2 separate regions of the Homo sapiens genome follow, and region 2 is linked to region 1. A link means that fine-mapping ties the variant in region 1 to the expression of a gene that starts in the linked region. Tissue or cell type: breast. Region 1 holds a variant in brackets; the other region holds the start of a gene. All regions are shown on one strand. Distances are from middle to middle.

The links. PIP is the estimated chance that this variant, and not a neighbour inherited with it, causes the effect.
Region 2: it holds the start of RASA1, and the variant in region 1 is fine-mapped to the expression of RASA1 in breast (GTEx, PIP 0.90).

Annotation. Positions count from the first base shown.
Region 1 is chr5:87,214,264-87,222,392 of GRCh38, forward strand. It overlaps LINC01949 (long intergenic non-protein coding RNA 1949), which reads right to left. Exons shown (of 3, transcript NR_130914.1): 3 at 1,472-4,066. All of the region lies in intron 2 of LOC101929380 (a long non-coding RNA gene), which reads left to right. Among named protein-coding and RNA genes, the nearest start is that of LINC01949, 21 kb to the right of the region's middle. The variant G/A (reference allele first, on the strand shown) is at 4,533.
Region 2 is chr5:87,263,365-87,271,493 of GRCh38, forward strand. RASA1 (RAS p21 protein activator 1) reads left to right here and starts at 4,519. Exons shown (of 25, transcript NM_002890.3): 1 at 4,519-5,626. The coding sequence starts at 5,088. RefSeq lists enhancers at 4,248-4,542, 4,596-5,483, 5,241-5,290 and silencers at 4,291-4,540, 4,881-5,060.

The sequences.
Region 1 (8,129 bases):
GAATTTTATCAAAGGCCTTTTCTGCATCTCTTGAGATAATCAATCATGTGGTTTTTGTCATTGGTTCTGTTTATGTGATGGATTATGTTTATTATTTTGCATATGTTGAACCAGCCTTGCATCCCAGGGATGAAGTCAACTTGATCGTGGTGGATAAGCTTTTTGATGTGCTGCTGGATTCTGTTTGCCAGTATTTTAATGAAGATTTTTGCATCGATCTTTATGAGGGATATTGGCCTGAAATTTTATTTTTTTGTGCCTCAATTTCAGAATTTATTATTGGTCTATTCAGGGATTTGACTTCTTCCTGGTTTAGCCTTGGAAGGGTGTATGTGTCCAGGAATTTGTCCATTTCTTCTAGATTTTCTAGTTTATTTGCATAGAGGTGTTTATAGTATTCTCTGATGGTAGGTTGTTTTTCTGTGGGATCAATGGTGATATCCTCTTTATCATTTTTTATTGTGTCTATTTGATTCTTCTTTCTTTTCTTTTTTATTATTCTGGCTAGTGATCTATCTATTTTGTTAATCTCTTCAAAAAACCAGGTCCTGGATTCATTGATTTTTTTGAAGGGTTTTTCATGTCTCTATCTCCTTCAGTTCTGCTCTGATCTTAGTTATTTCTTGTCTTCTGGTAGCTTTTGAATTTGTTTGCTCTTGCTTCTCTAGTTCTTTTAATTGTGATGTTAGGGTGTTGACTTTAGATCTTTCCTGCTTTCTCCTGTGGGCATTTAGTGCTATACATTTCTCTCCAAACATTGCTTTAGCTGTGTCCCACAGATTCTGGTACATTGTGTCTTTGTTCTCATTGGTTTCAAAAAACTTATTTATTTCTGCCTTAATTTCGTTATTTACCCAGTAGTCATTCAGGAGCAGGTTGTTCAGTTTCCATGTAGTTGTGCGGTTTTGAGTAAGTTTCTTAATCCTGAGTTCTAATTTGATTGCACTGTGGTCTGAGAGACTGTTGTGATTTCCGTTCTTTTGCATTCGGTGTGTAGTGTTTTACTTCCAATTATGTGGTCAATTTTAGAATAAGTGCGATGTGGTGCTGCTAAGAATGTATATTCTGTTGATTTGAAGTGGAGAGTTGTGTAGATGTCTGCTTGGTCCAAAGCTGAGTTCAAGTTCTGAGTTCTGTAGGTCTGCTTGGTCCAGAGCTGAGTTTAAGTCCTGAATATTCTTGTTAATTTTCTGTCTCATTGTTCTGTCTAATATTGACAGTGGAGTGTCAAAGTCTCCCATTATTATTGTGTGAGAGTCTAAGTCTCTTTGTAGGTCTCTAAGAACTTGCTTTATGAATCTGGGTGCTCCTGTATTGGGTGCATATATATGTAGAATAGTTAGCTCTGCTTGTTGCATTCATCCCTTTACCATTATGTAATGCCCTTCTTTGTCTTTTTTTATCTTTGTTGGTTTAAAGTCTGTTTTATGAGAGACTAGGATTGCAACCCCTGCTTTTTTTCTTTTCCTTTCCATTTGCTTGGTAAATATTCCTCCATCCCTTTATTTTGAGCCTATGTGTGTCTTTGCACGTGAGATGGGTCTCCTGAATACAGCACAATGATGGATTTTGACTCTATCCAATTTGCCAGTCTGTGTCTTTTAATTGTGGCATTTAGCCCGTTTGCATTTAAGGTTAATATTGTTATGTGTTAATCTGATCCTGTCATTATGATGCTAGTTGGTTATTTTGCCTGTTAGTTGATGCAGTTTCTTCATAGTGTCGGTGGTCTTTATAGTTTGTTATGTTTTTGCAGTGGCTGGTACTGGTTTTTCCTTTATGTGTTTAGTGCTGCCTTCTGGAGCTCTTGTAAGGCAGGCCTGGTGGTGACAAAATCGCTCAGCATTTGCTTGTCTCTCAGGATTTTATTTCTTCTTTGCTAATGAAGCTTAGTTTGGCTGGATATGAAATTCTGGGCTGAAAATTCTTTTCTTTAAGAATGTTAAATATTGGCCCCCCACTCTATTCTGGCTTGTAGGGTTTCAGCAGACAAATCTGCTATTAGTTTAATGGGCTTCCCTTTGTGAGTAAACCGACCTTTCTCTCTGGCTGCCCTTAACATTTTTTTCTTCATTTCATCCTTGGTGAATCTGATGATTATGTGTCTTGGGGTTGCTCTTCTCGAGGAGTATCTTTGTGGTGTTCTCTGTATTTACTGATTTGAATATTGGCCTGTCTTGCTAGGTTGGGGAAGTTCTCCTGGATAATATCCTAAGAGTGTTTTCAAACTTGGTTCTATTCTCCCCAGCACTTTCAGGTACATCAATTAAACATAGGTTTGGTCTTTTCACATAGTCCCATATTTCTTGGAGGCTTTGTTCGTTCCTTTTCATTCTTTTTTTCTCTAATCTTGACGTCACACTTTATGTCATTAAGTTGATCTTCAATCTCTGATATCCTTTCTTCTGCTTGATCGATTCAGCTATTGATACTTCTGTATGCTTCACGAAGGTCTCGTGCTGTGTTTTTCAGCTCCATCAGATCATTTATGTTCTTCTCTAAAGTGGTTATTCTAGTTAGCAATTCCTCCAGCCTTTTTTCATTTTTAGCTTCCTTGCATTGGGTTAGAACATGCTCCTTTAGCTCAGAGGAGTTTGTTATTACCCACCTTCTGAAGCCTCCTTCTGTAAATTCGTCAAACTCATTCTCCATCCAGTTTTGTTCTCTTGCTGGCAAGGAGTTGTGATCCTTTGCAGGAGAAAAGGTGTTCTGGTTTTTGGAATTTTCAGCCTTTTTGCACTGGTTTTTCCTCATCTTCATGGATTTATCTACCTTTGGTCTTTGATGCTGGTGACCTTCGGATGGGGTTTTTGTGTGGATGTCCTTTTTGTTGATGTTGACGCTATTCCTTTCTGTTTGTTAGTTTTCCTTATAACAGTCAGGCCCCTCTGCTGCAGGTCTGCTGGAGTTTGTTGGAGATCCACTCCAGACCCTGTTTACCTGGGTATCACCAGCGCAGGCTACAGAACAGCACAGATTGCTGCCTGTTCCTTCCTCTGGAAGCTTCGTCTCAGACGGGCACCCACCAGATGTCTGTTGACCCCTGCTGGAAGGTCTCTCCCACTCCGGAGGCACAGGGGTCAGGGACCCACTTGAGGAGGCAGTCTGTCCCTTAGCAGAACTTGAGCACTGTGCTGGGAGATCTGCTGCTCTCTTCAGAGCCAGCAGGCAGGAACGTTTAAGTGTCCTGAAGCTGTGCCCACAGCTGCCCCTTCCCCCAGGTGCTCTGTCCCAGGGAGATGGGAGTTTTATCTATAAGTCCCTGACTGGGGCTGCTGCCTTTGTTTCAGAGATGCCCTGCTCAGAGAGGAGGAATCTAGAGAGACACTCTTGCTACAGCAACTTTGCCGAGCTGCAGTGGGCTCCACCCAGTTCAAACTTCCCAGCAGCTTTGTTTACACTGTGAGGGGGAAACTGCCTAATCAAGCCTCAGTAATGGCAGACGCCCCTCCCTGCACCAAGCTCAAGCATTCCAGGTGGACATCAGACTGCTGTGCTGGCAGCGAGAATTTCAACCCAGTGGGTCTTAGCTTGTTGGGCTCCGTGGGGGTGGGATCTGCTGAGCTAGACCACTTGGCTCCCTGGCTTCAGTGCCCCTTTCCAGGGGAGTGAACAGTTCTGTCTCGCTGGCATTCTAGGGGCTACTAGGGTATGAAAAAAACTCCTGCTGCTAGCTCAGTGTCTGCCCAAATGGCTGCCCAGTTTTTTGCTTGAAACCCAGGGCCCTGGTGGTGCAGGCACCCAAGGGAATCTCCTGGTCTGTGGGTTGCAAAGACCGTGGGGAAAGCATAGTATCTGTGCCGGAATGCCCCGTTCCTCACGGCACAGTCCCTCACAGCTTCCCTTGGCTAGGGGAGGGAGTTCCCTGACCCCTTGCGCTTCCCGGGTGAGGCAACACCCCACCCTGCTTCTGCTTGCCTTCTGTGGGCTGCACCCACTGTCTAACCAGTCCCAATGAGATGAGCTGGGTACTTTAGTTGGAAATGCAGAAATTATCTCCTTCTGCGTTGATCTCGCTGGGAGCTGCAGAGCAGAGCTGTTCCTATTCAGCCATCTTTCCAGACACCTCAAGAAAAATTTTATATCACTACCGCAAATAGAAAAACCAAATTATTTGCCATGAATGGAAAGTAACAGTAAATATAAACACGACAGAGTAAAAATAATAAAACATGGTAATATATTCTAGTAGTATATTTCCTGATGAAAACTTTTTACAGGGGTCTGCTCTACCTTGGCAAAATGAAAAATTAGAGAAATTTAGAGACAACACCAAACTGAGAGGTCCTCCTTGAGATAATCACAAAGATTAAATGTTGTTTAGGAGGAAATAACTTTGTCGTTATGTGATTCAATGCTAATTAATGCCATATCCATGAACATGAAATCATGTCTCATGCTTCCTAATGTTATCTCAGGTATTGCCAGTGGTGACACATTTCTGGAAACACTGCTCAGTGGTATCACATGGAGTAGTAAACTGAGTCATACAACATTTTACTGGTAGTTATATTTAAATTTCTATTAAAAAT[G/A]TTTTTGGCTGGGCGCAGTGGCTCATGCCTGTAATCCCAGCACTTTGGGAGGCCCAGGCAGGCGGATCACGAAGTAAGGAGATCGAGACCATCTTGGCTAACACGGTGAAACCCTGTCTCTATTAAAAATACAAAAAATAAAATTAGCTGGGCGTGGTGGCAGGCGCCTTGTAGTCCCAGCTACTTGGGAGGCTGAGGCAGGAGAATGGCGTGAACCCAGGAGGCTGAGCATGCAGTGAGCCGAGATCACGCCACTGCACTCCAACTGGGTGACAGAGCAAGACTCCACCTCAAAAAAAAAAGTTTTTAATTTTAAATTTCATAGGAAATGCTGATTGAATTTCAAGTCTAAAAAACCAGATTAATTACTTGATTTGAATAATTTAGTGCTAATTTAAAAGTCTTTTAATTACAACCCGAGATGAATTTAGGAATCAAAGCCATCTGACTTGTGATTATCCGTATCTTTTGTTAGGAGTTAGGTCTTATATTAATTGATTTTTGTCTTTCAAAGCATCTAGCATTGGTGACCCATGTCCAGGGATCTCATTGTGGTGGGGTGATGATTACTGACCAGGCTATGATCAGGTATAGAAAAACATTCACACTCTATGCTCTCAGGGTCTGGCCTCTGCTTGGCTCCATGTTGTACAGCTGAGAGTAGTGCAAGCTCTTCAATGATGAGATAGAATAAAAATATGTCTCAACAACTGAATTATCTGATTACCCAAAATGATTTCATATGGAAAAATAATTACTACATATAGAGGACATTTCATTTCAGTGACTTGAAGGATACTGAATTATTTGAAATTATGGACTAGACACCCTGCTATGGTCTAATATATCCCCCTAAATTCATGTTGGAAACTTAATCCCCAATCTAGCAGTATTAGGAGGTGGGGCTTTGGGGGAAGTATTTATGTCATAAGGGTTTCACCGTTATGAATGGATGAATGCCATTATAAAGGGGTTTGATGGAGGAAATTCATCCTTCTTGTGCCCTAAGCCTTCTACGATGTTAAGATACAGAAAGAAGACCCTCACTAGATACCAGTGCCTTAATCATGAACTTCGTAGCCTCCAGAATAGTGAGAATTAAATCTCTATTCTTTGTAAATTATTGTTTCCAGTATTATGTTACAGTAACACAAAACAAAGACACACTCTAATACTAACCCTTGACTGATTACTAAATTGCAGAAATCAGCTCTTTGGTTCAACATGTAATCAAGCCAACCCTGGAAGACATTGCCTTCTACCTCCAGGGCCAACACTGGTCAACCTTTCCCCACCTCATGCCTGCCTTCTACCCTTGTGGGTTAGTGAGTGTCTCCCTACCAAAAAAAAATAATAATAATAAGCCGAATGAGTTAAGCATATAGAAGCCTGATTATACTATGAAGAGCATTTACCTTTGAGTCAGAGACTCAAGTTTGAATAGTTACTTAACTTCACTGCTTAACAGCTATGAAGCCTGGGCGAAATCACTCAACACAGCCTGTTTCCTCTCTAAGAAATAAGGGATAATCATACTTTATTTATGAATTGTTATGAGAGTTCAATTGAGTTAACATTTCAGGTTAGTTGGATTTGACTAAATATTGGTTTAATTCATTTGTTCACTGATTAAAATTTTAATCATTCTCTAAAGTTCTTTCTTCTCTATTCTCTCACAATAATACTGTAAATAGCTCTGCTAAACTTGAGCTCTAAAAAGTACTTTTAAAAAATAAAGCATACAGTTAGGTTTAAATATTTTATGATTTAAAGAACAGGAGGAACTAAACTGATGAAACCCATTTTTCAATTTTTTTTTTTTTTTTTTTTTCTTGAGACGGAGTCTTGCCCTGTCACCCAGGTTGGAGTGCAGTGGCGCAATCTCGGCTCACTGCAACCTTCACCTCCCGGGTTCAAGCGATTCTCCTGCCTCAGCCTCCCGAGTAGCTGGGATTACAGGTGCCCACCACAATGCCTGGCTAAATTTAAATTTGTGTTTTTTGTTTTTGTTTTTTTGAGACAGAGTCTTGCTCTGTCGTTCAGGCTAGAATGCAGTGGCGTGATCTCGGCTCACTGCAACCTCCGCCTCCCAGGTTCAAGCGATTCTCCTGCCTCAGTCTCCCTGTAGGTGGGGTTACAGGTGCCCGCCATCGCGCCTGGATAATTTTTGTATTTTTAGTAGAGATGGGGTTTCCCCATCTTGGCCAGGCTGGTCTCAAACTCCTGACGTCATGATCCACCGAACTCGGCCTCCCAAAGTGCTGGGATTATAGGTGTGAGCCACCGCGCCTGGCCTAATTGTTGTATTTTTAGAAGAGACGGAGTTTCACCATGTTGGCCAAGCTGGTCTCAAACTCCTGACCTCAAGTGATCCACCAGCCTCGGCCTCCCAAAGTGCTGGGATTACAGGCATGAGCCACCATGCCCAGAATCCAGATTTTTTGAAGTAATTTTTCTTGAGCTTTGAGAAAATATGATTTATGAGCAATAAACCAATAAAAAGGCTATGCAAAAGTAGATGATGTTTCAAAATACTTTTAAGCTAGACTTAAGTACTTAATAAAATAGCTGAATTTATTCTTATATATAATATAAATCTCAGCAAACTGAATCTTTTCAATAAGAAAAGTAAAGGAAATATAGACTATTCCTAGCATAGTTCAGCTTAGTTGCTGGTTTGGAGAGATAGAAAAGAGTGCTTTAGGCCGGGCGGGGTGGCTCACGCCTGTAATCCCAGAACTTTGGAAGGCTGAGGCGGGTGGATCATGAGGTCAGGAGTTTGAGACCAGCCTGGCCAACATGGTGAAACCCCATCTCTACTAAAAATACAAAAATTAGCTGGGTATGGTAGCAGGTACCTGTAATCCCAGCCACTCAGGAGGCTGAGGCAGGAGAATAGCTTGAACCCGGGAGGCAGAGGTTGCAGTGAGCCGAGATCAAGCCACTGCACTACAGCCTGGGACAGGGCAAGACTCCATCTCAAAAAAAAAAAAAAAAACTGGAAAAAGAAAGAAAAGAGTGCTTTAGGATTAGGATGTTGTTTGAATGTTTTATATATATATAGTGTGTGTGTGTGTGTGTGTGTGTCTGTATAAAATGGACCAAGCAATAAAGAACTTTTAGCCAAGTATACTTTTAAAACCAAGTAAAATTTAATGTCATAACTTAAGTTATATTATAGGTGTTATTCCTAATATTTGGTTTTCAGGCTGTTTTCAGAATAAAACAGGGAAAGATCAAGAAATCGGCCAGTGTCTCTTCTTTCTGTGTAAACAGGTCTTTGTAGATAACCGTGTTTATCAGAGTCTGATTTTACTTTTCTCTTTGTACTAAATCTTCTGTTTAAAAAGTCTTAAACCACCTCTGTGTTTGTTTGAATTCCAAAGTTGAATAAATATAGCTGTTATGCGTAAATAACCAAAGGAGTGTTTCTCAAATTGTGTTGTCATGATTGTTTTCATTAGAATCAGCTGGAATGACTGTTAAAAGGGTAATTTCCTGGGCTCCACCACCCCAGTGCTACTGTAATAGAATAATGACCCTCAAATATGTCCACATCCTAATCCCCAAAACCACAGCCTATGTTGTGTTACCTGG
Region 2 (8,129 bases), 49 kb after region 1:
CATCACTGATACATACCATTATATTTACATGTCATATTTCATTGCTTTTTAAAAACTATTCGATAAACAGTGAATAGGAAGTTGAAAAATAAGAGTTCTAGTAAGATAACAAGTGAAGTTGAAAAGTCTTCAAAAGAGCACGCGGATTGAGAAATAATTATAGTTAGAAATAGAAAGCTGTTTTTAGTTGAGTAAAGTTACACTACTTACAGTGCATTTGCAGTAGTTAAAGCTCTCACCTTATTTATGATAATTATCTGACTCAAGGCTCCACTTAGCCCTTTCATTGTATAGTTACTTTAAAGAGCGGTGTGTATTGCCATACTAACTGAATTTGCAAGTGAAAGCATTCCTGGAAGACTCTCAGGTAGACCAAAGAATGTAACTTGAATTAGAGACTGCAGGATTCTTGAGGTGAAAAGACCAAAGCTTAGTTGGATTTCATGACTGTGCTTCAGGTGCTATTTAAATTGTTGCTGGCATATTCAAAAAATATTATCTGTGAAAAATGGGAGTGTAATAATGAGGGAAATATGGCAAAGTCCTACCCACCCGACTCTCCCACATTCTTTGCCTTGAAACCATTCCGTTCCCTTTTCTCCTTTACTTCTACCATGAGGTACTATCATATATAGGAGCCAGGCAAAGAAAGGAAAATACATAAATGTGCCTGGTCAGAGTAAAATAATAGGTAAAGAAAAAGAGACTAGAAATCATGAAGGAGGAAAGGTTCTGACAAAAAATAATGAAGTATCTGCAATATAAAGACAAAATAGGAATAAAGTAAAAAAAAAAAATATATTTTTCTATTATTTTATATTTTAAGAGATATTTAGATCTAACTGTTCTAATCTTCTTTACTCATATATTGGTTTGAATGTTTTGAGAGAGCTCTGGATAATTTACCTTGTAATTTATTTTACAGCCTCAGAGATCATCACACAGTTCTTCAATTTCTCTATGGTATTTATAATTTTCATAAATCTTAGTTATTATACCACATATTGTAATCTCTGCAGAGTTATTTGCCTTTTCATCAAAGTATTTCCTTTAACCTGTATCTCCTCGATGTTATTTTCTCATAAGATCTTTGTAATAAAAAAATTTGTGCTCTGGAGGGTTTTAAGATAAAGTCAATAAATGCAGTGGGGACATTAGGGTTAGAAGTAAAGGCTTTCTTTCAAAATTATTGGGTCAATGAAACCTTTTGATACTATTTAGGTAAATTTGGAAGGCTATTTGTGTAACTCAATATGTACTAGGGCATGGAACACAATTTGGCATTCTTCAAACACAGCAGTAAGCTCTTTATTACTTCTTGGTTAGTCCTCCCATCAGAAACTATTCTTACCTATGCTCTAAGGTCCTCTAAAATTACAGTTATGTTACTGAGTTAGAATTACCTTTCCACATACTCAAGATATCAAAACTATAAAATATTTTGGAACGTAGTACATTCATATTTCTTTTTCTTTTTTTTTTTTTTGAGACAGAGTCTTGCTCTGTCACCCAGGCTGGAGTGTTAGCCAGGATTGTCTCGATCTCCTGACCTTGTGATCTGCCCGCCTCGGCCTTCCAAAGTGCTAGGATTACAGGCGTGAGCCACCGCACCCGGCCACATTCATATTTCAGTTGCCAATGAAACCAGAATGAGCCAACTTCATTTCTTAAATTTTCAGTTTCTTTTCATACACAAGTTTTTGTCCAGCACTTTTTATTATTTAGTCTTCATTAAATACTATGTTTCAAGATCCAGAGTAACTTTTCTAAAATCACAGATATAATAGCTTATTTTACTAAAGGTAAAATATATTTTGAATTTTCTTTCTTTTGTGTACTATTCTGTTTTTCAATACCTCCCTGTTTAATATCTGTGAATTTAATTAAGATAGTTTACTTCCCTTTGTTAACTGGGCAGAAAGTTAAGGTGGGTAGAAAAGAAAGGCAATGGACAAAAATTAAGTAGAAACATTAAATCCTTTTGGAAAAAATGAAAATAAAGATAGACAACGTATTTGAGATTCAGAAAGTACACAAGCAATAGTAAAGATTAGAGCCTAGATCTATCCAATAATAGGAATATATTAAATATCTGAAAATACCTCATAAAAATATGTGGCAATTTCTTTGGAGGAAAAGAACAGGGCTAACTCTAAGGCTAAACAAAAACTAGGTAAGATATTGGTATAAGGCTGATTTACAAATAGACATAGTAGTTATTTCCTACTGGTTAAGAAATTGATTTCCAAAGATGGGAGCTGATCAAATTTGGTATTTGTTAAAAGGATGAAGATCTGTTCAAAGTAGCATACTGAGGTTGCCTAGGACTGGGCTAGGCAGTAGAATAGACCACAGGTTGTATTTGCAGTACAGTTTTGTAGGTACATACACCTAAAAGTCTAGAAAACATTTAATTGAGCATTTGATAGGTGTTAGACTGCATTAAATATTGACCTTTACAAGTGCTAAAGAATTGTCAAAAAGGAGGAGGTAATTCTGCAGTAAGAGTAGTGAGCCTCACCTGGACTCCCAGGCAACATACAGAGGGTGTGTGAACATTTAGAAATCAGTGATAACCAAGAGCCGGTGATAACCTGCCAGTTCAATGTCCTGCATTCAAGGGCTGACAGTGGTGACTGGGACAGGAATGTTGGAGGATTGGGATGCTAACACACTGGAGGTTTTCAAGCACAGGCTATATTAAGATTTGTTGGGATTGTTGCACTTGGTGTTCACACAGCAGACAGTAAGTAGAGTAGGTATTTTGATAGTCTTGTCTAACTGAGGGTCTAAGTTTAAAAGAAAACTGTTCTCAGGGAGGCCACCATAAGTAGTACTTCATTATTAAGTATTATGGAACTACTTCATTCTCATTTCTAGAACAGCACAGAGCTTGGCAACTCAAAACCCGCCTATTTTACCTACCCACCTAATGAATGACATTTATTATTTCTTTCAGAACCGTTTTTAGGTATTGCATACCTCCTTCTTGATTAGTATACTATACATTAATATAGTGGTTCTCAAACTTAAGTGTGCAAACAATCACTTGGAGGGTTTGTTAAAATGGATCGCTGCATATTTTCTGATTCAGAAGGTCTGAGGTGGCATTTCTGAATTCCTAGGATGTTGCGGCCTGAATTCACTTTGAGAACTCTAGCTCCTGTGACTGGTCCATCTTCCTTCTCCCAGGTAGCACACTGCTAAGAGATATGCGTAATGGAGGCCCCAGGACTACTCCTAATCAAGTTGGATTGTTGTCATTGACTAGGTAAATAGGCCTGTGCAAACTTACAAAGGCAATGCATTGCCTGTATCTTGTCACGTCTTTTAGTGGTCTTTTCTCTTTTTCCTGGGTTTCTATCACAGCCACTTGCCATCCTGAGTGTTAGTTTGATCATCCTTAGCACAGAAAATATTGATCTCAAAGATCAATATCCAATGGTATTTAATGTGGGATCACTCCTGGGAGAATTTAACAATATTGTTAATTTCAAACCATGGGAAGCTCCCTCTACATGAATGCATAGTTTGTATACATTTTAGTGTAAAAGACAAAATAACACCCTTCTCCTTAATTGTATTAAAAATGAGTTTTCAGTTTATTGCTACTTTTGAAACGATATATAATTATAACTAGCATTCTGGGACATTCTTGACATTTGACTTGTTGAAGGTGCTTGCATTGTGGATCACGTCCTGCAGTCTTTTGCACACAAACCAGGACAAAAGTGCATTGATTAGTGTTTTCTGTGGCACCTCCTCCTCTTCATCAGTATCCAACAGACTTATAATGGCATAGGTAAGTATATGAGACAGTTGATAAAGAAAAACGTATGCAAATACTGGTAGAAATCTTACTTCATAACCACTATTTCTACTCAAATTCTTCACCCTTCTCATATGGTGCCCTTTATTTCGTTTTGGAGTTTCAGAATCTATTTTAACTGTGTGTGTGTGAGATAGTCATAGTGATTTATAGCATGCAACGAAAAAGAAAACATTAATAGTACTGCCCCGATCTTCAAAGCTACCTGACCCCTGCCCGGTTTCTGCGCTGCTGGTTAAGGCTGTTTTTTCCACTGGTCAGGAAGTACGGAACTAGTTTCTGGGCATTTTCCTTTCCCTTTCCCCCTCCTTCCTCTCCACCGCCTCCTGGTCCCCCTCTGGTCTCTCCGGCTTTAACAGCGCCAAGCACCCGCGTGCTCAGGTACCCTTCCCTCTTCTCCCGCCCATCAAACAAAGCCCCGGGAGACAGGCGCGCGCCGCCGGCCACGCCAACAGGAGATGCGGCCGCGCCGCCACACGCTTGGAACCGGAGGAGGACAGCAAGCGCGACCACGCACCGCGCGTCCCCGCCGCTTCCTTCCCTCTGGACTCTTCCTTTTCCTCCCGGCCCGGCCCCCCGCCCCCGCTCCGGGAACGCGCCTGCGCACAAGCTGCCCTCTCCCTTCTCCGCCCTTCCTTCCCTCCGTCCCTCCTCCCCTGCCCCGCCTTCCTTTCTCTCTCTCCCGTTTCACTCACTGAGAGCTCCAGGTAGTGAGCAGTTCAGTCGATTTCCTCGTTACCCCGCCCCCCTTTCTCTTGCCCCCCCACCCCTCTCATCTGCCTGGTGGAGGATGAAGCGGCTGCAGTGGCCCCAGCCTCAGCAGCGGCACCGGCGGTGGCTGCGGTGTGGGTGGCCGGAACTGGGGTGGTGAAGAAGCGGTGGTGGCGGCTGAAGGAGCGGTAGCAGCCTCAGCCTCTTTCCCTGTGCTTCCTTTCCTCTTTAGTGCAGCGAGGAAGTTTTCGCTTCTGTACATGTGTTTGTGTGCGTGAGTGTGGGTGTGTGCGGTGAGGTTTGGGTGGCGTTTGTGCAGGCGTTGGGTTTTTTGCCCACTTGGCTTCCCGTAACCCAGGCAGCTGGGGAGCCTGGGCTGTGGCCCTAGGAGGGGGCGCGGCGGCGGGCTCTCTCCTTTTGTTGTTGTTTCCTCAGCCTGGGGAGCTGAAGGGGAGACGCGTCTGGGTGGGGCTGCTCGGAGCCCGGGCCTGGTGGCCCCTGGGGCTCCCGGGCGGGCAGGGTAGGGCAGAGTAGAGCGGGCTTCAACATGATGGCGGCCGAGGCCGGCAGTGAGGAGGGCGGCCCGGTAACAGCCGGAGCTGGAGGAGGCGGCGCGGCAGCGGGCTCCAGTGCCTATCCCGCAGTGTGTCGGGTGAAGATACCCGCGGCCCTGCCTGTGGCAGCCGCCCCCTATCCTGGGCTGGTGGAGACCGGAGTGGCTGGAACTCTGGGTGGCGGAGCCGCTTTGGGGTCAGAGTTCCTAGGAGCCGGGTCTGTGGCAGGGGCACTGGGGGGAGCTGGACTGACAGGGGGAGGTACTGCTGCTGGCGTAGCTGGTGCTGCTGCTGGCGTGGCCGGTGCTGCTGTTGCTGGACCTAGTGGAGACATGGCTCTCACCAAACTGCCCACTTCGTTGCTTGCTGAGACTCTCGGGCCAGGCGGCGGTTTTCCCCCTCTGCCCCCTCCCCCTTACCTGCCCCCTTTGGGGGCGGGCCTCGGGACAGTGGACGAAGGTGACTCTCTGGATGGACCAGAATACGAGGAGGAAGAGGTGGCCATACCGTTGACCGCTCCTCCAACTAACCAGTAAGTTAAGACTGCTGTTCAGGAATTTGGGAAGCTGGCTCCAGAAAAGAAGTGGAAATGAAGGGGTAAATCATACTTTGTCCTTTTCATCTGTGGTTTGTTAGGAAAAGTTTTTGAAGTTTCAGGTTTCTTGGGTAGGAATTTAATCTGATCACTTATCTTCCTTACAGGCATACTACCTGGCGTCTTCCTACATTTATTGCTCCTCTGGGAAAGTGTAAAGTCTTTAAGATGGAAAGCATGAGAAAATGTGTATCTAATGAGAACCGGATATAGTTCTGTCCCTTCCAAGTTGAGGTGGTGTCCCAGAATTTAGTCAAACTGCGGCTACCAAGGCAGTCATAGTGTATATTAACTTGTGTGTGTTACTTGATAAAGCTAGATGATTAGTGAGAAGCTTTGAATACAGGTGTTTAAACGAGTACTATAGTAATAATTTGAAAAATGTATTGGTTAGAATGTTTTTATTTCAGTGCACAGCCCAGCTTCTGATTAGAGAAAGCATAGTGATGCAGAAGAGTCTTTGGGTCACTTAATGAGAACTTGGGTCAGAGAGAAAGGAAAGGAATCCTGTGTATTATAGGTGTGATTAAGAGCCTATATTCCAACAATGTATCTTCTTCCATAGGCTTGCCACTTAATATTAACGCACTGCTTTTATAGTGGAGACTTTGGAAGTACAACAGTGAGGCAAAACAAAATCAATAGAGCTTCCCTTAAACATTTTTTGTTGGTGGCCAGTATAGTATTCTATTTAAAAATTAAGTTTTACAGTCTGTAAAATATACAGGACAATGACTTTTTTAAAATGTAAGTTAATACCTCCTCCTCACTTGTCTTAATTGAACTTAGGTGTTTATTCTTAAAGGTGGACCTTGATGAAAATGTTGAGATGGGAAGTGTTATTAGGCAAAACTTGTTATAGATTTCTCATATAACCCTTAATTGACCCTTAGAATTTTAACAACCGGCCGGGCGCAGTGGCTCACACCTGTAATCCCAGCACTTTGAGAGGCTGAGGTGGGCGGATCACCTGAGGTCAGGAGTTCGAGACCAACCTGGCCAACCTGGTGAAACCCTGTCTCTACTAAAAATACAAAAATAAGCCGGACGCGGTGGCACGCGCCTATAATCCTAGCTACTTGGGAGGCTGAGGCAGAAGAATCGCTTGAACCCAGGAGGCGGAGGTTGCAGTGAGCCGAGATCGTGCCGCTGCACTCCAGCCTGGGTGACAGAGCGAGACTCTGTCTCAAAAAAAAAAAAAAAAGAATTTTGACAACTTTGTTGAATATCAAGAAAAAAAGATTTGGTTCATATGTTGACAGTCACTCTGGACAATTCAGAGGTTTTTTTTTTTTTCCTTCCCCCCACCCCAGAGATGGAGTCTCGCCTTGTTGCCCAGGCTGGAGTGCAGTGGCGTGATCTCGGCTCACTGCAACCTCCGCCTCCCGGGTTCAAGAGATTCTCCTGCTTCAGCCTCTCTAGTAGCTGGGATTACAGGCGCATGCCACCATGTCTGGCTAATTTTTGTATTTTTAATAGAGACGAAATTTCGCCATATGGCCAAACTGATGTCGAACTCCTGACCTCAGGTGATCCGCCGGCCTCAGCCTCCCAAAGTGGTGGGATTACAGCCGTAAGCCACGGTGCCCGGCCTTTTTTTTTTTTTTTTTTTTTTTTTTTTTTTTTTTTTGGATAAGCTTCTTTGGAGCATTTAGAAAGTTCTGAAACTAATTAGGAAAAGATTCTGTTACCCTAATCCATTTTTGACTTAAGGCTACATCTTTTGATACTTAAAGGGGAAAAGTAAAGTTAGTCATATTTATGCCAGCCAACGGGATGTAGTATTCCACTTTTTATATTCCTCAATAAAGGATTCAAGTCTTTCGTCAGAGTTTGGTTCATATTTTAATGTCTTTGTAATGCAGAGTCCCTGGGAGTATTCTGGGAGTGTTAATTCCAATTTTGCTGGGCGCGGTGGCTCACGCCTGTAATCCCAGCACTTCGGGAGGCCGAGGCGGGTGGATCACCTGAAGTCCGGAGTTTGAGACCAGCCTGACCGAGATGGAGAAACCCCGTCTCTACTAAAAATACGAAATTAGCCTGGCGTGGTGGCGGGTGCCTGTAATCCCAGCTTCTTAGGAGGCTGAGGCAGGAGAATCGCTTGAACCCGGGAGGCGAAGGTTGCAGTGAGCCGAGATCCTGCCATTGCACTCCAGCCTGGGCAATAAGAGCTTAACCCCGTCTCAAAACAAACAAACAAACAAAAAAACAATATTACAGCACTGCTTTTGAAAAAAATAGTTCAATTTTTATTAAATGCTAATAGCATGCTTGGTACAATGGTTATGAAAAACAATGCAACTTTTCATACTGAAAGAATCTAGTCTTATGCTAGTTTATAACTAAATTAGGTATATTTAGGATATTGTAGTTAAAAAAAACTGTTTTTAGTAGACTTCTTTTTTTTTTTTTTTTTTTTTTTTTTTTTTTTGAGAGATGG